Regions from separate parts of the Homo sapiens genome. Here region 1 is linked to region 2. Evidence: fine-mapped expression QTL. A gene starts in region 2. The other region holds a variant in brackets. All regions are shown on one strand. Distances are between the middles of the regions.

The links. PIP is the estimated chance that this variant, and not a neighbour inherited with it, causes the effect.
Region 1: its variant is the best candidate, but not a certain one, in a credible set for the expression of KCNH8 in testis (GTEx, PIP 0.85).

Annotation. Positions count from the first base shown.
Region 1 is chr3:19,098,597-19,114,001 of GRCh38, reverse strand. No RefSeq gene overlaps it. Among named protein-coding and RNA genes, the nearest start is that of KCNH8, 42 kb to the left of the region's middle. The variant T/C (reference allele first, on the strand shown) is at 7,986.
Region 2 is chr3:19,140,300-19,155,704 of GRCh38, reverse strand. It overlaps KCNH8 (potassium voltage-gated channel subfamily H member 8), which reads right to left and starts at 7,195. Exons shown (of 16, transcript NM_144633.3): 1 at 6,910-7,195. The coding sequence starts at 6,985. RefSeq lists enhancers at 7,753-8,346, 8,347-8,940 and a silencer at 8,634-8,805.

The sequences.
Region 1 (15,405 bases), 42 kb after region 2:
TTGTCATGCAGCAATAAATAATTGCATTAAAAATAGAATATACCTCATGTGGTTGTTAGGATTAAATGAGATAGCAATAGTTAAACAATTAGTACCCTAAGGTGGAATATTCCAATTTAATTCAAATGTTGCCAGTGACTGCACAGCATCAGTGAGTTAGAGTTCTAGGGACCTCTCCTTCTGTGGAGCTTACCTTCTTGAAGAAGCAGACAGAAATAATAAGTAAATGATATAGTTTGTTAAAATGTGGTAAATACTATGGGGAAAATAGGAAAAAACAATAGAGCAAAGTAGATTGGAAATATGGAGTTGGAGGAAAAAGGAGACAGTTTTCAATTTTAAATAGGATAACCAAAATAGTCTTTATTAAGAAGATTAAATGTGAGAAAAAGAAGGTAAGGGGATGAAGGAGCTATCCCTGCACATATGAAGAAAACAATCCTGAGAAAGGACAGAGACAATACAAATATCTTAAGGAGGAAGCATACTTCGAGTGTTCAAGCCTCAGGAAAGAGGTCACAGTGGCTGGAACACAGTGGACATAGAGGAGCACGTGAAGAGATAATGTCAGAATGTGGGGACCTGTAGAATATTGTAGGCCTTGGCAGTCCTAGAACATTGTTAAAGAGATGTTCCATATAATGACGGCAGTGCTCTTTTCTTTCAAAAAACTATAAATTGGAAATTCAGCAACAGTTGAAATACCTGGTATTATTTCCTTCCTAACATCTATCATCACCTGCAAGTGTCTTGCTTTGTTCATTTGTTTACTTGTGTAATTGCCAGTCCTACTAAAATGTAAGATTTATGAAAACATGGACTTTCCCTTTTTATGTCATCACTGTATCTACAAACCCTAAAAAAGCCTCTGTCACAAAGTAGATGCCCAAGAAATATTTTTATTAAAGGAATTCATGGGGCCAGGCACGGTGGCTCACGCCTGTAATCCCAGCACTTTGGGAGGCTGAAGCAGGTGGATCACCTGAGGTCAGCAGTTCAAGACCAGCCTGAGCAACATGGTGAAACCCTGTCTCTACTAAAAATACAAAAATTAGCTGGGCACAGTGGCGCGTACCTGTGATCCCAGCTACTAAGGAGTCTGAGGCTGGAGAATCACTTGAGCCCTGGAGGCAGAGGTTGCAGTGAGCCGAGATTGTGCCATTGCATTCCGGCCTGGGCAACAGAGAGAGACTCTATTAAAAAAAAAAAAAAAAAAAAAAAAGTAAGGAATTCATGGAAGAAAAGAAATTATGAATAACAAACATCTCTCCAATATATCATAATTTACAAAAGGCTTTTACATAAGTTATCTCATTTTAACCTTACAACACTGTGAGGTAAATAACATTATTATTCCATATTATAGAAACGCAGAAAGTTTAAGAATCTTGCCAGAGGGGTTCTTTTCAGGACCAGATGTAAGTGAACTGGGCTAATTTTAAGAGGTATTCAAAGCTTTTGTTTGCATACTGTCTGGTTTTTTTTAAAAACTGTCACATTGCACATTTTAACTTTATATATAAATAAATTATATATATATTTAAATAATTACAAAGAATGTGATTTCTAAAATAATAAATTTCGAAGTCTTTTGTATGTAACAAATCCAATACAACTATAAAAGCTATTTGATCCCCACTATTGTCCTTAAAGCATACATAAAAAGTTTTCTTTAACAGTTGGAAATCTTTACATATTTCTTTTTTCTTCCTTGATCTCGAATTTCCATTCCATGTCCTCCATAGCACTTTATCTTTAAAAAGTTGGAAACTCAGTGATCCCCAGACCCCAGTTTGAACACTGCTGCCCAAGACAACAGTCTGTAGAATTGCCCAATGTAATAAGGAGATAAATGAATGTAATGATAAAAATTAGAGTCTAGAAACATGACCTCAAAGAAATCATGAGGCATGGAGATCCAGGAATTGCTTTATAACAAGGGCACAAAGTGGCTGAAGCAGGCAGTTCAGTACCCAAGTCCTACAACTCTGGACTGCTGGGGGTGGAGATGAGAGTGGCAGTGGCAGGAGTCTTTAAGGGCTGGAGTCTTTAAGAATTATTCACCTTTAGATCACTGGAAAATTTTATGTGAAACTTCTCTTTGAATCTTATGAGATAATGTGATATGAAAAAAATTATAAAAGAAGGTCCATGTAAAGGAAATCATACACCTGTATGTGCTAGTTTTAATATTTTCTTTGTTTGATGACAAGTAAAAAATGTGAGACAATATAGAGCTACACCGTCCAACATGGCAGCCACTAGTCACATATGGCTATTGATCACTGGACATGTTGCTAGTCAGAATTCAGATGTGCTGTGTGTGTGCAATGCACACTAGATTTCAAAGATTTAAAATAAAAAAAGAATGTGAAATCTCTCATTAATAATATTTTGTAATGATTACATCTTAAAATGGCAATACAGGAATATATTGGGATAAATAGAATATATTATTAAAATTAATTTCAAATTTCTTCTGACTTTTTAAAATGTAGCTATTAGAAAATCTTAAATTACATACCTGCTTCGCATTTTCTCTGGGATAGTGCTGAGGTAGAGCTTCTTATTTATCCGAGAATTTTTTAATTAAATCATTTTTGGATGACTTTAAGGTTACTTAATTTTAGCATAAAAGAAACTTTTATAACCAGGAAAACAATAAGGTTGCTATATAAAATTTTAAAAGATAATGATATAAATAAATGCTCAAGATATATTAACTAAAGTATCACTAAAACATCATAGTACATCATGCTCCCAAGTTTGAAAAACAAATTAAACACACATAGATAAAATAACAGGGAAGCTCTTCACAAAAATATTAATAATAAATTTTCTCTTAATAACAGTAGTATGTGTGACTGTGGATTTTTATTATATGTTTGTATTTTCTAACTATCCAAAATATGCATATATTATTTTTATTATTAATTTTAAAATAGCATAATGGGAATATGTCTTTTTATTATCTAATTACAAAACAATAAAACTGTATATAGAAAAAAATGAACAGAGGCAATTACAAATATTTCTATTGTTTGGAGCATATAATATCAAAACTAAATTATGTGACAAATGATAAATATTTTAGGGATACATATAGTTCCTTTCCTTCCTGGTCCATTATCAATGAGGACTTCTTGCTCTCTTCCATTGTCATTAAACTTCAAAGTAACAGGCTTCAATCATAGAAGGCATCACATTTTCTTGAAAATAACAGGAAAAAAGCCAGAAAAAGCATTTGCTCAAATTTTCAAAAACACTGTTTGCAAGAAAAATCTGTCTGCTTGGCTACCACACAAAAGACTGAGCATATGTAAAGCATTTTATGGAGCCGATCCCAATACAACACAAAAATAGGAATTACTTTGTTGATCTGCTCAGATCTCTGATATGGCTCCAAATATCCAACTAAAGTTTACCAGCACAGAGAATGGAAAGTGAAGAGGATTTTCCAAGAATTTGCATTCTCAGCATTTACTTTTTAAAATTGTGTTTAGTTCACTAGAGCACTGATGTTCTAATTATACTCAGATGGAAGGGAATTCTGCAGTACCCCAAAGTATCTAACCTATAATCAAGGAGCCATTTCCACCAGGACAAAGTAAATCTGTTTGCAGGTATATCTCAGACACCTCAAACATCTGGTTTATAACCATCTAACCACATGATTCCTTTAAGGGGTGAAGATATGTAACCCAATATATGAGAAACACTGATGTCTGAAGCCTTCTGATTGGCAAGAGCAAAAAGACTGCTTAATTAAAAAGTGGCAAAGTAGTCTAAACTCAGCAAGAAGGCAACTTCTCAGCCTTCATACTGACCACTGATCTGCTTTTTAATCTTCTCTGGCTTATCAAGTTCTTTCTTTTCTTAATAACTACTTTATTAGTTCTTGTTGCTCCTGAGGCTGTGAGAATGGAGGAAGAGGCTTGTATGAAAATTCCAAGACTATGCTGTTCATACTCTGTCCAGTGGTTCATTTTAATAGCCATCACTTATGGGGTCAAAGTTGTCAGCAAAATAAGACTCCTCCATTACACTTTGTTATTGCAACTGGCATCATAAGATACAAGTCACTTGATACAGATGTGGCAGGAAGTGAGTGAAAGACTGCCATTTTGGAAAATGTGATATGTGCTGTAATGGAGAGTTGTACATATGTCCAAAATGTTCTAAAAGCAGAGGGTACAGAGTGATGTAGAGCAATTCTTTTCTGCTTAGTGAAAAAGGCTGTGGGTTTGGAGAAGACTTCACAAAGAGCTGTGAAATCTGGGTCCGTTTTTGCCAGGCAGAAAGTTGAAAAGAAGTGAAGAGGATGTCCTAGACCAGAGGTTGTCAAATTTTAACCCAAATCACTGGGTCTCGCCCTAGAGTTTCTGATTGAGTAGATCTGTCATAGGTTCCCATGAGTTCCCCAGGTCATGCTAATTCTGCTAGTCCGAGTGTCTTATTTTGAGATCCACTTTTCCAGGCTAAGGGAACATCAAATATGTATCAATTCTATGACAATGACTCCTTTTCCCATCATCACCAATCTATAATACAAATTCTCGGGAAAACTGACCAAGGAAAGAATGTGTGGCATTGTGTCTAAAGTTAAGCAGACCCTTAGGAGGAATCCTTTGGAGATTTCATCTTGGTTCTTATAGATCTAGTGGAACAACAACTCACTTAGTACCTGGTAGTTTCTTAGTCTTCAATAGGCCTGGCAGATGACAGTTTGAAAGCTGTAGTAGGAAGGAGATGAAATGGAGAAAAAAAAATTGTGCTATTCCACTGTGTGAATACAAACTCTTTGGTGGACTGGAATGGCTTTTTGGATGATGGAACAGTTAGAAAATAATTTTTGTTTTGAGTATAAACTTTATTGATTATGAAAATTTGGGTGTTAAGCTTTGTTCTAGGGAGATATATGCTTTCAGTGTGTGTGCAAGTGTTATGATCAGTTATCCACTGAAAACCTGAAAAAATGAAAGAAGCATAAGTGCAACTTTTTTTTTAAGTTGCAGGGCCACCTTTAAAATGACAGAATTTGACGGGGCTATGCCCAACCTGAATTTTGCCGGGGGATCTTGAATACCAAAGTCAACCTGAACTGTTCTTCACGCATCTCCAGGAAAGTATTCTAGATGTAACTCAGAACGAGAAAATGAACTGTAGGGGTACGGGGATGAAGACTAGGGTAACTCTAAAAACCTGTGTGGGTAAGAGATGAGTTTCCCAAAAGGTAGATCAAATTTTCATACCTGAGGTTAGATGACATTACTTTCTTAAAAGAAAGTAAATCCAGAACAAAGATAACAAGACTGGGAAATAAGTCACATGTACAAACATACTCTCTGCAAAGGATTTTAATTTGGGGGTGCTTTTCCCATTGACTATGGGAAATACAACATGTAGCTCATAGCTTTAAGTTCTTTCTATGTCAGTTAATTTGCTTTAGCTTTTTCTAAGCCTACCATATAGTCTGACATGTTCATAAAACTGTGTGTGTGAGTGTGTGTGTTTTCAGATGGAGTCTTGCTCTGTCGCTCAGGCTGGAGTGCAGTGGCACAATCTCAGCTCACCTCAGCCTCTGCCTCCTGGGCTGAAGCGATTCTCCTGCCTCAGCCTCCTGAGTAGCTGGGATTACAGGTGCCTGACACCATGCCCGGCTAATTTTTTTTTTTTTTTTTTTTTTGTATTTTTAGTAGAGACAGGGTTTCGCCATGTTGGCCAGGCTGGTCTTGAACTCCCGACCTCAGGTGATCCACCCACCTTGGCCTCCCAAAGTGCTGAGATTACAGGTGTGAGCCACTGCACCCAGCTGTGGTGGCCTTTTTAGAGGAAATAAGGAACTAAACCATAAGGGGAAAAGAGTCTTGACTCCTGCAAACTAACAATTCCCTTTATGGAGACCTTTTCAAAGGTGTGTGCATCATGTGCACCACAAGGAAGACTGAAATACATGGATCCTATTGATGGCAGCAGTGGCCCATCTGGAGCAGCTGCTGCCATCATGCCAGCTGCAGCAGGGAGGCGTGGCCAGGGTTGCACACTCCAACACTCAGGGAGCTGGCAGGAGCCAGGGACTAGTGAAAGCCCTGCTTCTTCTGAGTCAGTGGGGTGGGAGCTCCCCGGCACAACTCTGCTGCCCAAGTAACTGCTGCAGAGCCAGGCCTCCTGCTCCAAGGAGCAGGCAGAAGTCCTGCCCCCTAGGCGTGGGTGCAGTTGCCCAACCCATGGCTGCAGACCCAGGCATCTCTGCACTCTTGAGGACCTAGGAAGGCCCCCACTGCCCTCACAGGCTCAGAAATGCATACTCCCACTGCCTGTCTTCTCCCTGCTCTCAGCATATGCTCTGATCTTGGAGCAAAATTGGGGCCAAGCTGGGCACTGTCACAGCCCACCAGGTGTGCACACACTCAGAGTAGCACTGACATACCAGCCCTCTGCTGCCTCAACCCCCTCTGGACTTTGGGCACCAATAAGCATAGGAGGGAAGCTGAGGTGGCACTGAGGGCAGCTTGGCACGGGCCTGCAGGCACCTCTTGGCACCTACAGCCTTGGTGCCATGAATGGCAGCCGGACACAGGTTCCTGGGCAGAAGGGGGCAGTCCCTGGTGTGGCCCCACCTTCAGGCCAGGGAAGGCCTGAAGGTTGGGGGCTGGGCTTCCAGTTCCACAAACTGGAGTGGGAACTTGTGCTGCCTTTTCCGGCCCACCCATGGCCACCCATGGACGAATTGGTGTGTAATTCCTCCATTCTGAGGCCCATAAAAGTCCTGGGCTCAGCCAGAACTGAGCAGACATCAGGATGACCACCTGTAGAGAGGAGCTACCCACTCCAGGGCCTCCTCTCTGCTGAGTGATGCAGATGTTGGGATGACCAGCTGCAGAGAGGAGTTACCCACTCCAGGGCCTCCTATGCTGAGAGCTGCAGATGTTGGGATGACCAGCTGCAGAGACAGGAGCTACTCACTCCACGGTCTCTCTCCTGAGAACTGCAGATGACAGGAAAACCAGCTGCAGAGAGAAGCTACCCTTTCTGCTGATAGCTGAACAGTTGTTGGGATGACCTGCCTGCAGAAAGGAGCTACTCTCTCTGCTAGGAACAGAACACTCATCAGGACACTCTGGCTGCAGAAAGGAGCTACTGCCTGTGGATCTTCTCTGGGTTGTTCTATTGCTCAATAAAGCTCCTCTTCATCTTGCTCATCCTCCACTTGTCTGTGTACCTCATTCTTCCTGGTCACAGGACAAGAATTTTGGACTTGCTGAACGGTGAGGCTGAAAGAGCTGTAACACAAACAGGGCTGAAACATGCCCCTTGCTTGCCATGTTGCAGACAAAGAGAAGGAGAGTTGCAGTCCTTCAGGAATCCCAAACCTGGAAGCTCCCTGAGCTGGTGCTGTGACTCCCTCTTTGGAGACTTGTGGTTCCTGGCATCTCCAAGCTTCTCGGTGCCACTGAATTCCCCAGTGCCAGCCAGGGAAGCTGCTTGCAGTGTGCCTGCTCCAGCCTCAGTCTTGCAGAGAGCCAGTGTCTATGCCATCACCTGGAGCTACCCATTCTGTGGCAGCAGCCAGAATGTCCAATTGTGTGCAGTGGCCAGACCTCATGCTTGGTCACACACCTCTTGCTGCTCCATGCCTGACTTGCCCTTGGCAGGCTGGTAGTGTGAGCCAAGTGCAGCCTGCCAGGCTGAGTGAGCAGAATGAGCCCAGCAGGCCCAAGCAAAACTTGGGCAAAGGCATCACTGGCCACAGAGGTTTCTGTCCAGAAAAGCAACACCTCAAAGATCCCATAACACTTTGCCCCAAACAATTACCAAGTCAGTCAGTGACTCAAGGGGTCCAGGACTGGGTGAATAACTTAAGAGAAGGTATAAAGGTGTTTCTCAGGCACACACATTTTTACTATAATGAAGAGGTAGTAACGTAAATGGAAGTGAAAAGCTGACGGTTTGGAAAAATTTAACACAACATATTGCGCAACCCC[T/C]TGCCGAGGGCCTTAGAAGGAACTCCTGGGATTGAGGCCCTGAAGTTGAAGTTTCATTTGCTTCACAGTAAATCTGCTTGACACATTGCTCCACTTCCCTCAGGATCCCACAACTGGTACCTCACTCTCCAGCATCCTACTTTTCTGTCTCAGGTTAGCAAGTCCCCACCTTTGAAATAAGATCATCATGGGCTGGAATTTTTTTTTAACTCAAAGTTTAATATGTATACATAAAAGTGAACATTTCAAAATTATACAGATTGATGGTTTTTCACAAACTAATTTCATTTTTGTACCAACACTCCAGAAAGCCCCCTTTCCACTCATGATACCATCTCCCAATGTCCAAGCAATCATTACCCTGATTTCTACCAAGTAGAATAGTTTGCACATAGGTTCACTTTATTATGGAATCATACAGTACATACACTATTTTTCTGGGTTTCTTTCTTTTAATATTATGTTTCTGAGACACATCCATATGGTTGTGTTTATTTGTCAATTGTTTATTCTCAATGATATACAGTATTATATTGTGTGAGTATGACTTATTTATCTAATTTTTGATGACCATTTTGTAGTTTTGTGTCTTAGGATATTAAAAATATTGCTGCTATAAACAATCTAGTACATATCTTTTGTTAAGCTTGTGTGTACATCTATTGGCGTGTGAGTAAGTGTGGAAATACTGGGTCATAAAGTATAAGATTAATGAATACTGCGAGACAATTACTGAAGTGGTTATACTAATTTACACTTCTACAAACTGGTATGAGGGTTCTAATCATTTCATACCCTGACCAAAACTTGATAATGTCTTTTTCATTTTGGCAATTCAAGTGAGTATATACAGTATCTAATCATGGTTTTATTGGAATTTCACTTATGATTGATGCTATGGATCATTTTTTCAAATATATGTGGGATATTTTGTTATCTTCTTTTGTAAAGTATCTCTTCTAATCTTTTGTACATTTTTCTGTTGGTTCATCTGTGTTTTTCTTACTGATTTATAGGAAGTATTAATAAGTTCAAGATAGAAATGATTTGTGGGATACATGTATTCCAAATGTCTTATTTAACTCAATATCTTGCTTCTTGATTTCAGAATGGCACCTTTTGATTTAGGAAATTCTTAAATATAATCTGATTTATCATTTTTTTCTTTTATGAATTGAGCTTTTTGTATCCTGCTCAAGAAATTCAGGGGTATTCCAAAGACATAAATATGTTATTCTATACTTTCTCTTAAAGTTGTATGTTTTATTTTCATATTTAAATATGTAATCCATCTAGAATTAACTTTTGTGTACAGTGTGAGGTATGAATCAATCTACTATTTTTTCTCCATATGGATAAACAATTGACTCAGCACTATTTATTGAAATTAGCATTTTTTTTTCACTACAGGTCTGAACTGTTGCTTTTGTTACATATCTGGAAATTTGTTTTATAGTTTATTAATATTCTGAAATACAGGAATGAAGTGGGTGCTCAGGAATGAAGGACAATGGAACAGAAAAAAAAGAATTAAATTCAGGTGCATATTATTGTCACATTAATTAAGGCAAGGGCTACAGAAAACACAAAAGGAGCCAGACAACAGGCAATCAAGTGTCCTCCAATAAACTGATTAAGATTCTTGGAGAACCATGTTTACAGGCTTAGGTCCCTGCCCATCAGTCATGGGAGCCTTCTTCATTGTTGTAGAAGAAATCTTTGGACTAAAAGAGCATGGATAATTTTCAGAAAAAACAATCTCCTCAGTTGTAAAATGAGGATAATAATTTCTATCTCATAGGGTTAATTTGAAAACAAATAAGTAAATCTATTTAAAACTTTGAGAAGTTTGTCCAACTTATATAGAGTGATATATAAAGTTTTAACAACATTATTGCTGTATTTATAATTACAGTCCTGAATTTCCCTCCTCAGGCATAATTTTTGCTGTTTCCACAAAAGAAAGAATGTATTAGTCCATTTTCATGCTGCTGATAAAGGCATACCTGAGACGGGGTAATTTATTAAAAAAACAAAGTTTAGTGGACCTACAGTTCCACATGGCTGGGAGTCCTCACAGTCATGGCAGAAGGTGAAAGACACATATTACATGGTGGCAGACAAGAAAGAATGGGACCTAGACTCCTGGACAAGATGGCCAAAATAGGAACAGCTCCAGCTGCAGCTCCCAGTGAGACCAATGCAGGAGGTGGGTGATTTCCACATTTCTAGCTGAGGTACCCAAGTCATCTCATGGGGACTGGTTAGACAGTGGGTGCAGCCCACAGAGGATGAGCAGAATCAGGGTGGGGTGTTGCCTCACCCAGGAAGTGCAAGTCAATATCATACTGAATGGGCAAAAACTGGAAGCATACCCTTTGAAAACCGTCACAAGACAAGGATGCCCTCTCTCGCCACTCCTATTCAACATAATATTGGAAGTTCTGGCTGGGGCAATCAAGCAAAAGAAAGAAATAAAGGGTATTCGATAGGAAGAGAGAAAGTCAAATTATCTCTCTGCAGAGGATGTGATTGTATATTTAGAAAACCCCATCATCTGAGTCCAAAATCTCCTTAAGCAGATAAGCAACTTCAGCAAAATCTCAGGATACAAAATCAATGTGCAAAAAGCACAAGCATTCCTATACACCAATAATAGACAAACAGAGGGGGCAGGAGCCAAGATGGCCAAATAGGAACAGCTCTGGTCTACAGCTCCCAGCGTGAGCGACGCAGAAGACGGGTGATTTCTGCATTTCCATCTGAGGTACCAGGTTCATCTCACTAGGGAGTGCCAGACAGTGGGCGCAGGTCAGTGGGTGTGCACACGGTGCGCCAGCTGAAGCAGGGCGAGGCTTTGCCTCACTTGGGAAGCGCAAGGGATCAGGGAGTTCCCTTTCCGAGTCAAAGAAAGGGGTGACGGACGTACCTGGAAAATCGGGTCACTCCCACCCGAATATTGCGCTTTTAGGACCGGCTTAAAAACGGCACACCACGAGATTATACCCCGCACCTGGCTCGGAGGGTCCTACGCCCACGGAGTCTCGCTGATTGCTAGCACAGCAGTCTGAGATCAAACTGCAAGGCGGCAGCGAGGCTGGGGGAGGGGCGCCCGCCATTGCCCAGGCTTGATTAGGTAAACAAAGCAGCCAGGAAGCTCGAACTGGGTGGAGCCCACCACAGTTCAAGGACGCCTGCCTGCCTCTGTAGGCTCCACCTCTGGGGGCAGGGCACAGACAAAAAGCAGTAACCTCTGCAGACTTAAATGTCCCTGTCTGACAGCTTTGAAGAGAGCAGTGGTTCTCCCAGCACACAGCTGGAGATCTGAGAACCGGCAGACTGCCTCCTCAAGTGGGTCCCTGACCCCTGACCCCCGAGCAGCCTAACTGGGAGGCACCCCCCAGCAGAGGCACACTGACACCTCAGACGGCAGGGTATTCCAACAGACCTGCAGCTGAGGGTCCTGTCTGTTAGAAGGAAAACTAACAAACAGAAAGGACATCCACACCAAAAACCCATCTGTACATCACCATCAGCAACGACCAAAAGTAGATAAAACCACAAAGATGGGGAAAAAACAGAACAGAAAAACTGGAAACTCTAAAAAGCAGAGCGCCTCTCCTCCTCCAAAGGAACGCAGTTCCTCACCAGCAACGGAAGAAAGCTGGATGGAGAATGACTTCGACGAGCTGAGAGAAGAAGGCTTCAGACGATCAAATTACTCTGAGCTATGGGAGGACATTCAAACCAAAGGCAAAGAAATTGAAAACTTTGAAAAAAATTTAGAAGAATGTATAACTAGAATAACCAATACAGAGAAATGCTTAAAGGAGGTGATGGAGCTGAAAACCAAGGCTCGAGAACTACGTGAAGAATGCAGAAGCCTCAGGAGCCAATGCGATCAACTGGAAGAAAGGGTATCAGCAATGGAAGATGAAATGAATGAAATGAAGAGAGAAGGGAAGTTTAGAGAAAAATGAATAAAAAGAAATGAGCAAAGCCTCCAAGAAATATGGGACTATGTGAAAAGACCAAATCTACATCTGATTGGTGTACCTGAAAGTGATGGGGAGAATGGAACCAAGTTGGAAAACACTCTGCAGGATATTATCCAGGAGAACTTCCCCAATCTAGCAAGGCAGGCCAATGTTCAGATTCAGGAAATACAGAGAACACCACAAAGATACTCCTCGAGAAGAGCAACTCCAAGACACATAATTGTCAGATTCACCAAAGTTGAAATGAAGGAAACAATGTTAAGGGCAGCCAGAGAGAAAGGTCAGGTTACCCTCAAAGGGAAGCCCATCAGACTAACAGTGGATCTCTCGGCAGAAACCCTACAAGCCAGAAGAGAGTGGGGGCCAATACTCAACATTCTTAAAGAAAAGAATTTTCAACCCAGAATTTCATATCCAGCCAAACTAAGCTTCATAAGTGAAGGAGAAATAAAATACTTTACAGACAAGCAAATGCTGAGAGATTTTGTCACCACCAGGCCTGCCCTAGAAGAGCTCCTGAAGGAAGCGCTAAACATGGAAAGGAACAACTGGTACCAGCCGCTGCAAAATCATGCCAAAATGTAAAGACCATCGAGACTAGGAAGAAACTGCATCAACTAACGAGCAAAATCACCAGCTAACATCATAATGACAGGATCAAGTTCACACATAACAATATTAACTTTAAATGTAAATGGACTAAATGCTTCAATTAAAAGACACAGATTGGCAAATTGGATAAAGAGTCAAGACCCATCAGTGTGCTGTATTCAGGAAACCCATCTCACGTGCAGAGACACACATAGGCTCAAAATAAAAGGATGGAGGAAGATCTACCAAGCAAATGGAAAACAAAAAAAGGCAGGGGTTGCAATCCTAGTCTCTGATAAAACAGACTTTAAAACAACAAAGATCAAAAGAGACAAAGAAGGCCATTACATAATGGTAAAGGGATCAATTCAACAAGAAGAGCTAACTATCCTAAATATATATGCACCCAATACAGGAGCACCCAGATTCATAAAGCAAGTCCTGAGTGACCTACAAAGAGACTTAGACTCCCACACATTAATAATGGGAGACTTTAACACCCCACTGTCAACATTAGACAGATCAACGAGACAGAAAGTCAACAAGGATACCCAGGAATTGAACTCAGCTCTGCACCAAGCGGACCTAATAGACATCTACAGAACTCTCCACCCCAAATCAACAGAATATACATTTTTTTCAGCACCACACCACACCTATTCCAAAATTGACCACATACTTGGAAGTAAAGCTCTCCTCAGCAAATGTAAAAGAACAGAGATTATAACAAACTATCTCTCAGACCATAGTGCAATCAAACTAGAACTCAGGATTAGGAATCTCACTCAAAACCGCTCAACTACATGGAAACTGAACAACCTGCTCCTGAATGACTACTGGATACATAACGAAATGAAGGCAGAAATAAAGATGTTCTTTGAAACCAACGAGAACAAAGACACAACATACCAAAATCTCTGGGACACATTCAAAGCAGTTTGTAGAGGGAAATTTATAGCACTAAATGCCCACAAGAGAAAGCAGGAAAGATCCAAAATTGACACCCTAACAACACAATTAAAAGAACTAGAAAAGCAAGAGCAAACACATTCAAAAGCTAGCAGAAGGCAAGAAATAACTAAAATCAGAGCAGAACTGAAGGAAATAGAGACACAAAAAACCCTTCAAAAAAATGAATACAGGAGCTGGTTTTTTGAAAGGATCAACAAAATTGATAGACCGCTAGCAAGACTAATAAAGAAAAAAAGAGAGAAGAATCAAATAGACGTAATAAAAAATGATAAAGGGGATATCACCACCGATCCCACAGAAATACAAACTACCATCAGGGAATACTACAAACACCTCTACGCAAATAAACTGGAAAATCTAGAAAAAATGGATAAATTCCTCGACACATACACTCTCCCAACACTAAACCAGGAAGAAGTTGAATCTCTGAATAGACCAATAACAGGATCTGAAATTGTGGCAATAATCAATAGTTTACCAACCAAAAAGAGTCCAGGACCAGATGGATTCACAGCCGAATTCTATCAGAGGTAAAAGGAGGAACTGGTACCATTCCTTCTGAAACTATTCCAATCAATAGAAAAAGAGGGAATCCTCCCTAACTCATTTTATGAGGCCAGCATCATTCTGATACCAAAGCCGGGCAGAGACACAACCAAAAAAGAGATTTTTAGACCAATATCCTTGATGAACGTTGATGCAAAAATCCTCAATAAAATACTGGCAAAACGAATCCAGCAGCACATCAAAAAGCTTATCCACCATGATCAAGTGGGCTTCATCCCTGGGATGCAAGGCTGGTTCAATATACGCAAATCAATAAATGTAATCCAGCATATAAACAGAACCAAAGACAAAAACCACATGATTATCTCAATAGATGCAGAAAAAGCCTTTGACAAAATTCAACAACCCTTCATGCTAAAAACTCTCAATAAATTAGGTATTGATGGGACGTATTTCAAAATAATAAGAGCTATCTATGACAAACCCACAGCCAATATCATACTGAATGGGCAAAAACTGGAAGCATTCCCTTTGAAAACTGGCACAAGACAGGGATGCCCTCTCTCACCACTCCTATTCAACATAGTGTTGGAAGTTCAGGCCAGGGCAATTAGGCAGGAGAAGGAAATACAGGGTATTCAATTAGGAAAAGAGGAAGTCAAATTGTCCCTGTTTTTACATGACATGATTGTATATCTAGAAAACCCCATTGTCTCAGCCCAAAATCTCCTTAAGCTGATAAGCAACTTCAGCAAAGTCTCAGGATACAAAATCAATGTACAAAAATCACAAGCATTCTTATACACCAATAACAGACAAACAGAGAGCCAAATCTTGAGTGAACTCCCATTCACAATTTCTTCAAAGAGAATAAAATACCTAGGAATCCAACTTACAAGGAATGTGAAGGACCTCTTCAAGGAGAACTACAAAGCACTGCTCAAGGAAATAAAAGAGGATACAAACAAATGGAAGAACATTCCATGCTCATGGGTAGGAAGAATCAATATCGTGAAAATGGCCATACTGCCCAAGGTAATTTACAGATTCAATGCCATCCCCATCAAGCTACCAATGACTTTCTTCACAGAATTGGAAAAAACTACTTTAAAGTTCATATGGAACCAAAAAAGAGCCCGCATCGCCAAGTCAATCCTCAGCCAAAAGAACAAACCTGGAGGCATCACACTATCTGACTTCAAACTATACTACAAGGCTACAGTAACCAAAACAGCATGGTACTGGTACCGAAACAGAGATATAGATCAATGGAATGGAACAGAGCCCTCAGAAATAACGCCGCATATCTACAACTATCTGATCTTTGACAAACCTGAGAAAGACAAGCAATG
Region 2 (15,405 bases):
AGCATCTTGCTCTTCAAGTGAAAAGCAGAGTCCCAAAACCATGAAAGAGCAGGGAATTTAGAATGAGTATGTGTGTAGCCTGGGAGACAGTGGTTGGAAAAGATTCTGCAGAATCATCTTGGGGTCAGATGATGCCAAGGACATTGGACATTATCCAAAAGGCAGCAGGGAGCCAACGGATGGCTCTAAGCAGGAGTGTTACATGATTAAGTGGTAATATTGTTTTTAATGGAAATCACTCTGGGAACAATGGAAACTGAACAAGTGGGAGTAGAAGGGACTGATGGTCACAGGGGTCTAGTTAGAGAAAGGCTGCAATTGTAGAGATAAGAAAAAGATGATCAGAATTAAAACAGAAGCAATAAAGAGGGAATTGAGGTACCAAATTAGGGCATTTCTGCAGTAAAATATTAAAAATTTGATAATTAATTAGATGTGTAGGCAGTCAAGGCCAACTCAGATTTGCAGCTTGAAGAACTGGATGGGTCGTGATGCCAATAATGAGGCTGGAACATGTAAGAAAACAAATAGGTTTCAAAGGCTAGAAAAGATTATTAGTTCATTTGGGGACATGTGGCATTTGAAGAGTTTATGTGACAAAGATGGTTGTATTAACAACTATAAAGGAAAGCAAAACATATCTTCCAGGGAATTTATAATCCAATAACTATATTTGCCTGTTTAAATTACTGAGAAAGCTCTTCAATTGCTCCAGTTGCCAAATATGAACTAGGTCATAGGTGAAGTTGAAGTCTCATCTTTGATGTTTGTATTTTGGATTTTAAACACAGCATTTAGATGAGATCAGCAAATATATACTGCCAGGGCGAAGCATACTATCTTTGCAGCAGTTCCAACTCTTTACCTTTTACTGTTGGGATTTCTCCAATCAAGTTCACTGGCACTGAATTCCAGCAAACCCTCAATTCTTTTTCTTGACCAAGGACATAACTCTAGAATAATACAGGGGTAAACCGCCCTGGAGGAGAAGAGTAGTCAGCTGTGTGGTGAGAAATAAATCTATCACTTCCTTAAGAGAAAGTTAACTCCCTGGGAGAAAGAAACATTCCTAAGAAAATGAACACATCAACTTCACTGCATTCTATGGAACCTTTATTTTAAAAAGCATTATTAGAAGAGATAGTAAAAAGAAACATCCCAAGTCTAAAGTTGGCATCTACTGTAGTGTGCTTTAGACTGTAGAACATGGGAAGGTTGAGCATTTTGGAAGTTTTTTAACTAGACATAGATGGCACCATAGTTTTTTACCAAAATATGGATCTATCACTTCCAATGGCTTATTATAACCAAAAACTGTGGGTTTAAAGATCTTTTATGGCTGGTCTAACCTACTTTCCATTGCCCTCTTACTTCTACATTGACCCCTTAACACCCTTTAAAATGCCTCTTATTCTCACTAAAGGCTCTTTCCAGCCTCAATGACAAGTACTGTACAAAATGGCAAATTAAATAGAATATTGTTTTTGCACCTATCATATATGATACAATCATTCCCACCCAAAGTTATTTATTATATGAAGCCCTCTCAGATCATTCCTGCATAGAAACTATTCCTCCCTCACCCAAATGTGCATAGCCCTTTGTCTGCACCTTCTGAATTACACTTATCTTTTTCTAATCTATATTATAGTAATTTGTGCATGTTACATTGCCCCATTTGAGAAAAAGATAATCCTGATTTATTCCAAATATCCTAGCATGATGGCTTTGTGTAAAGTTGGTATTCATTGAATATTATTAGAAAAATGATTGGGCCAGGTGCAGTGGCTCACGCCTGTAATCCCAGCACTTTGGGAGGGCGCGGTGGGTGGATCACGAGGTCATGAGTTCAAGACCAGCCTGGCCAAGATGGTGAAACCCCGTCTCTACTAAAAATGCAAAAAAATTAGCCAGGCGTAGTGGCAGGCATCTGTAATCCCAGCCACTTGGGAGGCTGAGGCAGAGAATTGCTTGAACCCGGGAGGCGGAGGTTTCAGTGAGCCAAGATCGCACCACTGCACTCCAGCCTGTGCGACAGAGTGAGACTCGTCTAAAAAAAAAAAAAAAAAGAAAAAAGAAAGAAAAGAAAAGAAAAGAAAAAGAAAAAGAAAAATGATTGAGTGAATGAATAAAGTACACATTTCTTTAGAAAGACTGTGCCTCTTCCAGAAGTATGTTGAGTCTAGGATATCTCAGAAACTAGTAACTCAGGATCCTCAATATGCTTCTGTAAAGACTTTTTGTCCTTTGCCAGTCTCATTGGCCAGAAGAGGTCTCATGCCACGACCTTTGAACTGACAGTAATGAAAAATGTTAGAGCCTAGAAAGACTATATCGTGGACACAATTTCAATTTTCAGCATATTGCATGTCCATTTTCTCTATATAATAATGTCAAAATTATCTGATGTTAGCTTTTAAGACTGTGCAATACAACTTTTCTTATTATTTGTATATATCACTAATCAAAAGAAAATCATTTCTGGTAAAGACATAAATCCAATTCCTGTAATTCTAACACTTTCTTCATTGTAGTGAAGTTATCAGAACCCCTGTGATAAGTCCTTTAGAGGGCACAGAATTCATCTACAAAGTCAAGAGTATGATAATGGGTACATTATCCTTCTCCCTATGCTTCTAACATTAAGAGGTCTATGTACCTTGATGAAAGCAAAAAGATAAAAAGAAAAAACCACTGAGAATTTCCTCTGTAGAGGAAGTATTTCAATTTTAACAAATTTCTTTTCTTTTTTCTTTTTTTTTTCTTTTTAAGACAGAGTCTCACTCTGTCACCCAGGCTGGAGTGCAGGGGCATGATCTCAGCTCACTGCAGCCTCTGCCTCCTGGGCTCAAGGGATTCTCCTGCCTCAGCCTCCCAAGTAGCTGGGATTACAGGTGCATGCCGCCACACCCGGCTAATTTTTGTATTTTTAGTAGAAATGGGGTTTCACCATGTCAGCCAGGCTGGTCTCGAACTGCTGGCCTCAAGTGATCTGCCCGCCTCAGCCTCCCAAAGTGCTGGGATTACAGGCGTGAGCCACTGCGCCCAGCATCAATTTTAACAAATTTCTTTGGACCATTTCAAACAGGCTATATAGAAGTGCATAAAATATATGCAAATATTAATGAGTTTCTAAACAACCATTATTTTGAATACTTTGATTGGAATCTTCTTGATGGAGTCCACTGGGCTACAAACTTCCTTTAAAACTTAAATTTTTGTCTTAGTAAACCAAAAGGGAAGAAGTAGTCTGGCCAAATTTTGATATGCCTAGAAAATGTAGGCTAATCCACCATTATGTTTGAAAATGGATACTTCCCTCTGAAAGCTTTGTATCTTTTTTAAAAAGCTGTTTTTCTCAAATGGTATCCTGTGACAAACAATTGTACTAAAAATACTATTTTTTCAAATATAAATACATTGGTATATATTTTTTCAAATATATACCAATGTGTTCCCTTATTGTACTTTCCCTTTGTCCAAATTAATAGTTACTTAAAGCAAAAGTCTAAACAGAAAAGATTTTCTTAAATTACAGCAAATATGTTTTAAAAAAAAACTATGGAGAAGTGAACTAGTTGCAGGCCATAACGTTAGGAGTGTGTGTGTGGTGTATGTGTGTATGTGTATGTCTTAGAGTGGTACAAGTGAGTGGTTTTTGCTATGTGTAATAATTCAAAGAAATTAATTGGAATTACTTTTTCTTTTTCCCCCTAAGTGGGGTATACGTATTTAAGATTTCTAAGGTTCTTAGTTTTTCTAAGTCTTACTACACTTCAGTTAAATACAAACCATAAAACATATTTCAAGAGTAAATATATTTAGTGGTAATTTTATATAATATTTTTATTTTTCAATAATGGTTGCAAATTATATTGCATATCAGAAAAAAATAGCCTCAATTAATAATCCACAAGTGTCTTTCAATCCTGACAGACCTCACTTTTTAAATATTAAAAAGAAATATTATAATATGTAAAATAATAAAGTGTCACTAAGTTATAAAATGTATTATTAACTTCCATTATGTTGCCCTGTGATAATATCTCAACTGATAAATAGTAGGATTATGTTATAGAGTTTTATGTTGTCATATATTTATTTTTCCTGGGAGGATTTTCAGATGATGTCTTACATTGTTTTATTATTCTCCAATAAAATAAATTAATAAGGCTAATAATAATACTGCATGTTGGGTACATTAGCAAGGCAGTTTGCCAGGGTTGTTGTTTGCTCTCTAATTTTTTTTTCATAAAAATTGTCCAAAATAAAATAAGAAACTAGCATGACCGTAAAATATACTTCACAAATAAGGTAAAAATTATACCAACTCAGCATATTACATATTCAGTATAATTAACATTATTCACTTTCCAGCAAAGTTTTTGAGTAGGTGGCAATTTTGTAAATTTAAAATTTGTAAATAGTTTTCTCTTGCAAAAGAAAATAAATGACAGCTATAAAAATCAATAGAAGTAAGGATTATCATAGGAAAATAGTTTCAGAGATAGTAATTACAAAACTGTATCAACAAGAAACAATGGCATAAGAAGATAAAGTAAATAGCTAGCTGGAAAAATGGTATACCCATTATTCTAGATATACCAAAATTTGTGGCTAAAATTTTGTTTAAGGTATTTTAAGTTTCAGATTATTCAAGTCATCCTGCTATTCAAAAAGAAAAAAAAAAGAAAGGAAAAGAAAATGAGAAAAGAAAACCCTCTTTCATTGAGTGGGGGTTTCTTGGGAGGAGAGGTGTTCACTAAATGTTGTAAACAAAACCTTGCCAAAGTCAACCCTTATGTTACTTATCACCTTCAAATTTGCTTCTCTGATTGTCAGATTTCATGCAAACTGGTTCCCTCCAGGAATCCCCCAGATGCTGTGGAGCACAGACCAAGCATGGTCTCCAAAAGACTTTTTGATTTCTTACTATACTAAATACAGGTATGTCAGGATGGTCTTCTTTAAAAATAAGGATTTAAAGTATCTAACCTATCTTATTAACATTAATGTGTAGCCAACATAGAAAAAGAACTATTCACAAGTACATCCATCTCTCCCTACATGCCCTCCTGCTTATCATGCATATCACTATAGTCAGAGTCAGAGGCCAAGATATTTCCACGCTGATGATTTAAAGCCCCTCTCATTAGCAATTGATATCTGAATGTATCACTGCAGTAATTCCCAAGGCTGTGCTGGGATGATTCACTACACATTACACTTCATTCAACTTTAAATGGCAATGAGATAAACAATTACCATTTGCCAATTACCTCATTTTCAATAGACAAATTCAGGATCAATGTTTACAGCCTTTTAGTTTTGGATGTTCAACTTCAAAAAAAAAAACATCCACATTAAACTGATCAGTACCTCAGGTAATGAATAGTAAAATAGTAGTATCCGCCATCATGCATGGTAAAACACAGCAGTGGTGATTTTGTGTGGCGCTTCAGTGGTGTGGTAGTGGCAATGGCAGGGACTTGAAGTTTTCCTATAATATTTATCATTATTATCTAAAAAAGACATACGTAATAACATTACACCTCATACATAACATCTAACACATTTAGAATATAAAAGGGAAAAGAATGGCTAGATGTAAAGATAAAAACACTTATGAAGTGACCAAATATCCACACCAACTACCATGATTAGACTAGATGTCAAAAATAAAAACTGAACAAAATTAAAGTGATTCATTTCTTTCTCATGTAAACTTTTCCAACTATCCCTGAAGCATAAGTCCAAGACTTGCTTCCCACCCAAAGATAAGACTGTGTATTTAGACTACTGGAGTGGAAATGAAATTAGTATTGCTCTCCCATATCAGCTCCAAGAAATATACAGAGTAAAAGCAATGACACTTGAACCACTAAGAAGGACTTTAGGATAAATGAGTTTCTCTGAGTCTCAACAGAAAAATGGAAGACAGTGCACAGAAGCAAGATAAGCTAGAAAGAAGATGAGGATATTCGTAGTGAAACCAACTGAGAGCATTTGTTAGGGGTGGTAGTACAGACTCCTAATTACAGGGTTAAAGCCAGCTAGGAAGATCCACAGGGTCAAGTAGAGAGCTTGAAAAGCCTGAGAAGGAGTGGGGACCTGACCGTGGTCCTGAAAGAGAACAACTTGCAGATGATAACGAACCGTCTGCTAGCAACCACACAACATCCTATCTATTTTTTTTCCTACTGTAGCTTAAATGAGCTAAATGTCCAATAATATTCGTACTCAAAAAAAAAAAACTAAAAACTTTCTCTTATCATCAAATCGTCTTTATTCATGTCCTTCTTCCTGAACAGCCTCTGCTTGAGTGTTAGGCTCATTTAAGGATTAAAAGATACGCTATTCTAGCTCAAAAGCAGGAATCAAGGTTCTGACAAACTCACAACACTTAAAATTCTACAGAAAGCTTACACTTGGCAATCCTGCATTTCTTAAACTCAGATAGAAAATCATACCTATCCGAAATATATCACGGAATGAAGCTCCAAGAAAGAACACTCCAAGCTCTCCTTTTGATCTAGGGAGCCTTGAAACTCTAGAAAGATTAGGTACACCGATATTCCCCTTTTCACCTCAGAAAATTACAACCAATTCCCTAAAGATACACCAAAATGCAGGTCCCACAGTGAATACGGGCGTCGGTCTTTCCTCAGGCTGCGTTTCAGTCCTTAACAAACCCAAGAACTCAAGAGAGCCAACTATTACACCAATACAAAGTGTTAATACTACACCAAACCATGAGGGAACAAATTTCTCCGCACAAAAGATACCTTGGCAAGAACAGAAGAAAATTCACTCCGCTGGTGCAAAAGGGAAGGTGGGAGCAAAAGTAATGTGTACGAGAAAAATCAGTCTCAGAAAATGCCATACCACTCGTTCAAGTGTAAGACTTACGTGTTCCGTCAAAACGGGTGGCGATGGTGTCCAGGAAGGTGTTTTGCGGCGCCAGTAATCCTTTCATAACCGGCATTTTTCCAGCGTGGTGTGAAATTCTCCATCAAAGTTTGTCCAGAAGGATGGTTCGAAAGGAAAGTGCCAAGAAGGGAGAAGGGGAACCTGATGACGGCAGGGAAGGGGGACCCGGCCTGACGGCGGGGCCGAGCAGGGGAAGTGGAAGGATGGAGGGAGAAAGGGAGAGAGTTCCAGCCGCCCCGGCTGTGGCAGGAGGAGCCCCAAGAGCGCTCCCCGAGCCCGCCCCGCACCTCCAGGCTCAGCCCGGCGCAGGCTCCCTCTCCCGCCCCCTCCACCCCCGCCAGCTGCTGAAACCCCCCCACCGTCCCTCCGCGGGCAACAGTGCCCGCCAGGCGCCGCCGCGCGGTGCCTCGCCCCCCACGTCGCCCGCCCGGAAAGAGCCCGCAGTGGCCCGGGGCGCCGCGCCCTGACCGACGTCTCTGGGGTCTGGGAGGGCGGCGCTGAGAGCTGGGAGAGGCGCTGAGCCTCCCGGTCTCCACGGGACGCCGGGAAAGGAGAGCGAGCGCAACTCCCACGCCCCGGGAGCCAGTGAACAAAGACCCCTTTGTTCCCTCTCCGTCCCACTCCCGGGGAGACTGGAGTCCCGTGGGTGTGGTATTGGAGAAAGGGAGGAGACAGGTCGGGGCAGGTATCCGGCCTCAACCTAGAACTTAGGAGGGGGAGGCCCCCCAGTGGTGTCCAAGGGAGCAGAGGCAGCCAGGAGCCCCACGGGGAGGCGGCCCCCTTCCGGAGCACTTGCCATTGCGAGCCCACGCGACAGGGGCAGGGCAGCCCGAGTTAGTTGTGAGGCCCATCCCCAGTCACCAGGGTCTTTTAGTCCGGGAAACTGGCCCCGAGCTCCAAAAAGGGGTGCTTCAGCCCTTCTCCCCAAATTGCCATTGGCCTCCCCAAGCCATCCCAAACTTTAAAAAAATAGCCTTTTGAACGGACAATGGATGGTTTCCCATTCTCCGGTAAAATGTGAATAAAGCATTTCTAGAAAAGTTTGCTATTTTTATTAATTTGCAAAATACCACGTAAGTAAAAACAGTAAGGCTGCCTTCCAAAAATAGCTTCAAACACAAATCCCCTAGCCTGCCCCCCTTTCCCCAGCCCCCACTCCCGAAGACTGACACCTCCAAGAAGAAAGCCTGGCGGACGGCCAGGAACTGAAGGCGTCTCAGAAAACGAAAGTGGTCTCTCCCAGTCCTCCCCCCTGGCCCCCCCCGCGGGGACTCCCTCTCGGCCAACGTTCTGCGGGGAAAGTCGCCCAAGCCTGCGGCACAGCCCTGTGGGGAGTGCAAGGGGACACCCAGAGCCCGAACTTTATAGAAAACTCTGCAAGGGAGGTGGAGTGTGGAAGGGAAGTTGAGAGCCCCAGGGTAGAAAAACAAACGTAAGCCCAGGTGCTAGTGCACCCGGAAGGAAAGGAGGGAAAAAGCAAACAGGTGTCAGAGCCGCGGCGAGGCAGCTCTGATCTCCAGGAACTCGGGCGTGGCGGGAGGAGGGAGGGAGGGCCCACCCCCCGCCCCCTTACTAAGGGGGTTTCTTGTTTCAATTATCTCGGCTGTTGGGGCTTCGGGGGGGACCCCGCGGGTTTCGTCACGTCTGCCTTGGGCTCCGGGAGGGAGGGGGAGAAGAGAGAGAAGCGGCATCCCCCTCTCCCCGCCCCCAGGCCCCCTTTCTCGTGATGCACTTCCTGCGGCCGAGGATTCCCTTTGTGTTGAAATTCGAGAAGATCCGGCAGAGGCTCTAGGCTAGCTGGGCGGGGGCGCGCCGGGGAGGGGACAGGATTCCGGAGTGGGCGGCGCGGGGCGGCCATCCCAGAAGAGAAGCTACCAACGTGGGGTTCCTCGCCCAGCTGCACCCTGCTTCTGCCGCAGGTCCGTCCCTGTCCTCCCCTCAATCCTTGTGTCCCACCCCAGCTTCGCTTTTCGGAAACCGAGCTCACGCGGGTGGAGTCCCCCACGCGGCGAGCCGATCGCAACTGCAGGTGGCTATGTGGCTCAGTCTTGGGCGGAGCTGGGGAGAAAAAGATGAGGGAGTCCCTGTTGTTTGGGTGGCGCATCGTGTCCCAGAAAATTCAGGCTGTTGCTGCCGATGTAAAACGGAGATAAACGCCACCCGTGAATTGGCTCGAAGTTCAGGATGAAATGTATTAGTTGTAAGCTATGACTGTGGTTCATAACAATTTGCACTGTAGGGCCGTGTGTGTAAAAATTGTTTCCTCGTGGTCCTGATCTGTTACCTAATATATGAAATCACTGCAAGAAGCAAGCCACATAGTGGCTTAAAAATGACAACCCAAAAGAAAGCCCCAGTTTCATGGCAAAAGGAGCCTGGCATTTATCATTCACTGTCTCCCCTCCAACACCTATTATGTGTCAGGAACTGTGCTAGGCATGGCAAGATCCCTGCCCTAAATTCAAATTCAAGCCCTGTATTCTACTGAACTGCAGTAGATGGACCTAACTATCTCTTATATCCTTTGCCCACCAAGAAGTGTTTCTTAATGAAGACAGCCATCACCACTCTGGTCTTGAGTTCCAGGCCCTTTTTAAGTTCTAGCCCGAAACCTAATGTTCATCCTAAGGGTTTGTGGCATCAGTGAGGCCAAATTGTGCCATTAGAACATGACCTCCATCCAAGTTTAAGTATATTAAATCCCTTTAAACATGTTTTGCCACCTGGAAAGCAAAGACCGTGAAAGAAGCACCATGGGAGTCTGGAGTTTTCACTATCATCTGCCCCAAATCACCAAATCTCATGTGCTTTCCTTAAGGAAATTTTCCCACTGTCCCCACTTATTGACACAAAAAAACCCAACTCATTTTGTTGCAACTCATTTTATTGACACAAAAAACCCCAACTCATTTTATAGTAGATCACACACTACAGGGATGTGATCTTTCTCTACGGACTAAACGAGACAATGCTACAAGAATACAGGATAACCACACAATAGAGTAAACTTAATGCCCTCATTAAAAATATTGATGTTCATGACAACACATGGACACAGGGAGGGGAACATCACACACCCGGGCCTGTTGGGGGCTGGGGAGCTGGGGGAGGGATAGCATTAGGAGAAATACCTAATGTAAATGACGAGTTGATGGATGCAGCAAACAAACATGGCACATGTATACCAATGTAACAAACCTGCACATTGTGCACATGTACCCTAGAACTTAAAAGTATAACAATAATAATAAAAAATTCATGTTCACAGAAAAGATATTTTTCTTTCACTTTAAAATGTAAAGGAAGGCACAAAATCCCTATAACCAGACCAAGGTACTCTATTATGTACTATAGAAGGCCTCTAGGTAAAACCAACCTAGGCAAAGTTCACTGATACAATAAACTGCCCCAAACCCTACTGACTTAAAATGTCAACAATATTGTATTTTGCTTTCAGATCTCCAATTTTTACAGGGATCAATGGGGCAGGTTATTTCTGAGTACACTTAACCTGGAACTGGAATATACACTTCCAAGATGGTTCACTCAAAGTTATGGAAATTTGGTGCTGGCTTTCAGCTGGGAGCTCAGCCAGTGCTAGGGCCTTGGGGCTTCAGTTATTGGTGTAGATCTCTCCAGGAACTACTTGGGCTTCCTCACAGCATGGTGGTTTCCAGAGTGTCTGAAGAGACAGGAAGTAGGAACTGCCAGTTTCTTAAGGCCTGATCTAGAAACGGCCAGATTGAAAGCAAGCACAGAATCCAGGTTAATCAGAAAGGGGGAAAAGTCCAACCTTTAGATGGAACAAGTATCAAATAAAATGGAGCCATGTTTTAAAATCTTCCTATCAATTTGTTAGTATTTTGAGTTTCAAAGGAAGTTGCCTCATAACAGCATTCCTTAATGTGATTAAAAATCCATTTTTACCTATTCTTTATGTCTCCATAAGCATTTGAGATTTATGGGTACAAGATCTGGGTTCAACTCTATAATTCCTTATAGGGAAAATGTAACACACAAGAGAGAAAATACACATTAAATTCACTTAAGAGTTATAAGCCACAGATAAAGCAATTTTTATTCTTATTTTATTTAAGACTGACTCTCATTAGCATTTGATGTTGTCTTTTCAGACTGACTGGAACTGGAAAAAGCTTCAGGGCTCTCTATATTAGTTTGATGGTTTTAGGTCGGCTTCACGTCTGTTTTCTAATTATAGCATTCATCCAATACCATGACACAAAATAGCTGCAAATGCCTTATTGATGCATATGTATTTGACTGTAGGCACTGAAAATATTCTTAAACTTTTTCTGGCAACAAGAATTTTAGCCTTCGCAAGAAGGCAATATTTTAATTTACAGGCATCTACTCAGATGTATTGAGTTCTAGTTTTGTTTCAACCACTTATCCCCTTTGTCATTTAAAGTTTGTGGGTTTCCATTTCCTTAACTGTAAAACTGGGATAATAATACTTTCCCTACTTACTCCACTGAGTAGAAGAAAATATTTATGAAAGCCTTTGAATCTCATAATATGTGGCATACAATAAAAGGGATGATAATAATCATTGTTCTCTTTTTTATGTTCTAACATATCTAATACAAGTTGTTTATCCACAATAAATATTGTTGACCAACTATGACAGTTTATGGTCCTGTTAGCTCAGAACACATTTATGTATTAATAATTTGTTACAACCTATGACTGGTGAGCTTTTCCTTCTAAATATAAATGACTTTAGAAGCTCAGAAGGAAAATCAAGCAGTTCATTTCTTTGACTAACGCTTTCAAATTGTTGTGCTCTTATATCCAACCAAGCTGGATTCCAGTGGTATGTTCACTGCCTCCTCTTCCCCAGTGTTCACTGCCTCCTGTTCCCCAATGGTCACTGCCTATTTCTCAGTGTATGTAGAAACTAAAATACTCCAGCACAATCTCCAAAGCTATGGTTTCAGTCAGAGTAATCTAGGTTATGCCTCAATAAAAAACATAATATCTCAATGGCTTATTACAATAATGCTATTTCTTGCTCAGTCTACATGTCCCACCTGAGTTGGTAAGAGCCTGCTCATTATTGGGGCCCAGATTGATGGAAGTTCTGCTCAAAAGGTATTTTCTTTGAAGAGAAAAAGATAATCCGGCAAAGCATATACTGTTTTTTCAAACTTCCACTTACAACTTAATGACCAAAATAAGTCATATGGCCATCCTAATTTTAAAGAGGTGGTAAAATACAATCCAACCCTTGCCCTCAAAGAAAAGGAACTCTGGAATATTCAAGAACTGACATTTAGTAGCAATAGAGGTGCACTGTTTGGATCTCATGTCAAGAGAACCTGGTGGGAAAAGTGTTGCTGATGACAGTCTTCAGCTGCCAAATCTTCAAATCTGCCACACTGTCCATGTCAGCCGATGACCAAACGTGATGCCAATAGTAAAGTTCAGCCCTTTCTATCCTGTGTGGGGCTCGCCTAATAGGTAATCTCTGTGCCAGGATTCCTCATTAGCTTGACAAAGACTTTCTCAGTAGTGCACCATTCTTCCTACCCACTGTTCCTTCCCTCTCCTTCCGAGATGTCAACCCTGCATCACAGTCTGAAAACTCTTCCTGCCCCCCCACCTACCTTTATCCTTTACATGCTCTTTCTTCAGTGTCAACTCCTATCTTGGTGTCTGCTTGACGGAGGATCCAGATTGACCCTGGCATATCAGGGAGGTTTTCTGAGAAGAAAGAACCATGAGCCCATTTACTAAATTCTACAGCTAACAATGAATCTTGAATAGAAAATAAACAAAAAACATCTCACATGTATCTTTGTTGCCTTCACTCCAGCACATTCTTTTCCTTTGCTCCCTATTTTTCATCCATGATTCACCACTAGCCCAAAATACAATCTGGGAACCAGTCTTGATTATCCTCTCTTTACATTAAAATAAATAATCTATCACTAGTTTCTATTACCTCTAGCTTCATAAAATCTGTAGAATCTGTCCTTTTTCCATTTTCCACTGTCACTCTTTTAACTGATATACTCATTATTTCTTACTATAACTATTTCTCTTAGCTGGTCTTCCTGCCAGAAAGCATTCTTCTTGAATTCCTCCTTTATACTGCAGCCAGCATGGTGTTTTTCTATAATATAAATTAATCATGTACTCCTTCCTTAAAATCTTTGTATCTTTGAGGACAGAGCAAAATTATATCACCTATTAGTTGAAGCCATTCAATAACTGTCCTCGACGTAGCCCTCCAGCGTCATCTTTTATGCACATAGCAAGCTAACTCCTCCATGATTTTATGTTTGACACTTGCTCAATTATGTACAATTCCCAGAACATGATATCTTCTTTCAGGACATCTCTTTAACATGCTGTTACCCTTATTTCAAATGACTATCTCATACTCGCTAACTTTCCTCATCAGTTGAACTCATGACCCAAAGATTACCTTTAACATCGCTTCCAGTGAAACCTTTCTTTGAATTTTCTAATCAACTTAAGTACTCATTTTGTATGTGTCCCTATATTAACTCGCATATGCCTCTGTTATAACCCTTACTTTATAGGTATAGGTATGTGCCTGAATATCTACATAATATAAGTGCCTTATATTAACTAGAATTCTGCTTGTCTGCTAGTAACAGAATACTTGCCTTAAAGTGGGTAAGAGTGGCTTAAACAAACAGGGTTATTCTTCTCTAAAATAACTGGTCCTGGGGTGGTTAGTTGCAGATATAAATTCAAAAGCACAACAATATCAGTCATTATTTCTGGTTATCTTGACCTTTTCCTCATGGTTGCAAGATGGCTGCTAAAGTTCCATCCAGTACTTCTTTGGTCTACTATCAGAAGTGAGGAGGAGGTAGTGCTGGCTGAAACCAGCTCTTTTTATTAGGAAAAGTTAAAACTTCCTTGGGAAAACCTCCTTTTCCTCTCAGGACATTTCTGCTATTTCTCATTAGCTAACACTGTGTAATAAAGATGTCTTTAGCTACAAAAAGAATGTGGAAGTGATTAATTACCCAGGATTTATAAAAGAAAGAAGCAAGGTCTAACAGTTTAAGAATGCGTGTGGGTCAACCAACCTACCTAGATCTTCTGCCACATATTTCAAAGGCAGTTAGAAACAAGGTGTGACATGAACAAACGTCCATAATATGGATGACATGCAGGTTTTATATACACTTCAATCCTAAAAATTAATAGCAACTACTAGGCTTTCTGTATTGAAAATAATTCCTAGATGGCTCCCAGACTCATCAAGAGAGTTGAAGAACAATTAATAATGTCTACCATGGGCATGGTAGAAAATCTTAGGGATTCAGATCACTGCAGTAGACCTGGAGCTGTTAGCTCTGTAGCAGATTCCTAAGAGCCGTATTTGTCCCCATCTCTCCATTGCAGAGGAAAGTGAAGAAGTACTTACTTACCCTATGATTTAGTGCTATATCTCTCATTTTGATCACTTGTTAGTCAGGCTATGTTAGATTATTTTGTGGTAGCAAATTAATACCCTACCTCAAGTTTAAGTAAGTTAACCACCAAAATGTAATTATCACTTATAAAGCAATAGAGGGGGCTCTTCTTTACACAATTACTCAGGCACTCAGGCTGATGGACACTCATCCATGTTACAGTTGCACATCCAGAAACAGAGGCCTCCATCATGATCACTGAACAGAAAAGTCACCTGCTATCCTGTGATTCAACCCAGAAATTATACACATCACCTCTTCCTAAAGCTTACTGACCAGAATTACTCATATGCTTTTACTCACCTATGAGAAAGAGCACCCGGAAAGTACTCTGCCAAATCCCCTCTATAAAAATAAAAGATGATACCACCAACTCAGACTTTTCGTGATATTTAAATGACTGAATAATATAAAACACACAGAATAATGACCGAATTATAGTAATAACTCAATAAATGCAAGGTATTACTATTTTAGGTAATTCCGCATATATTCCCACCTTCAGAATTCAGGTCACTGCAACAGACCTTGGGCAATAGTTCAGTAGTAGATTCCAAGAGGTACATGGTTTCAACCAATAGTATTCTCAACTCTTATAAATTTTCACAGTGGTCAAGTTACATAAGGAGGAATACATTCCATATCTTACTGCCATTCAATGAATCTGAGCCTCTTTGGAAGAGTGGAAGGTGAAAAGTGGAGATAATACTGCTTATTTATTTATTAAATCTCACCATCTTTCTCTTGTTTTGAAAATTTCCTGCCACAGGAAACAACATGTCCCTCAGTGCCTATCCAATTTTCAATACTCTGTTCAGGCTTGTTACACAAACACTGGAATCCCAGTCTCATCAGACCTTAATGGTAAATACCTTCCATTTTTGCTCTCTCCTGTACCAGTGTATGTATACACTGTGTCCATCCTACTTTCTTTTCTTCCAGAAGATTAGGTGTTCTCTCCAAAAGTAATACACAGCCACCTGAAATTTTCATTGTC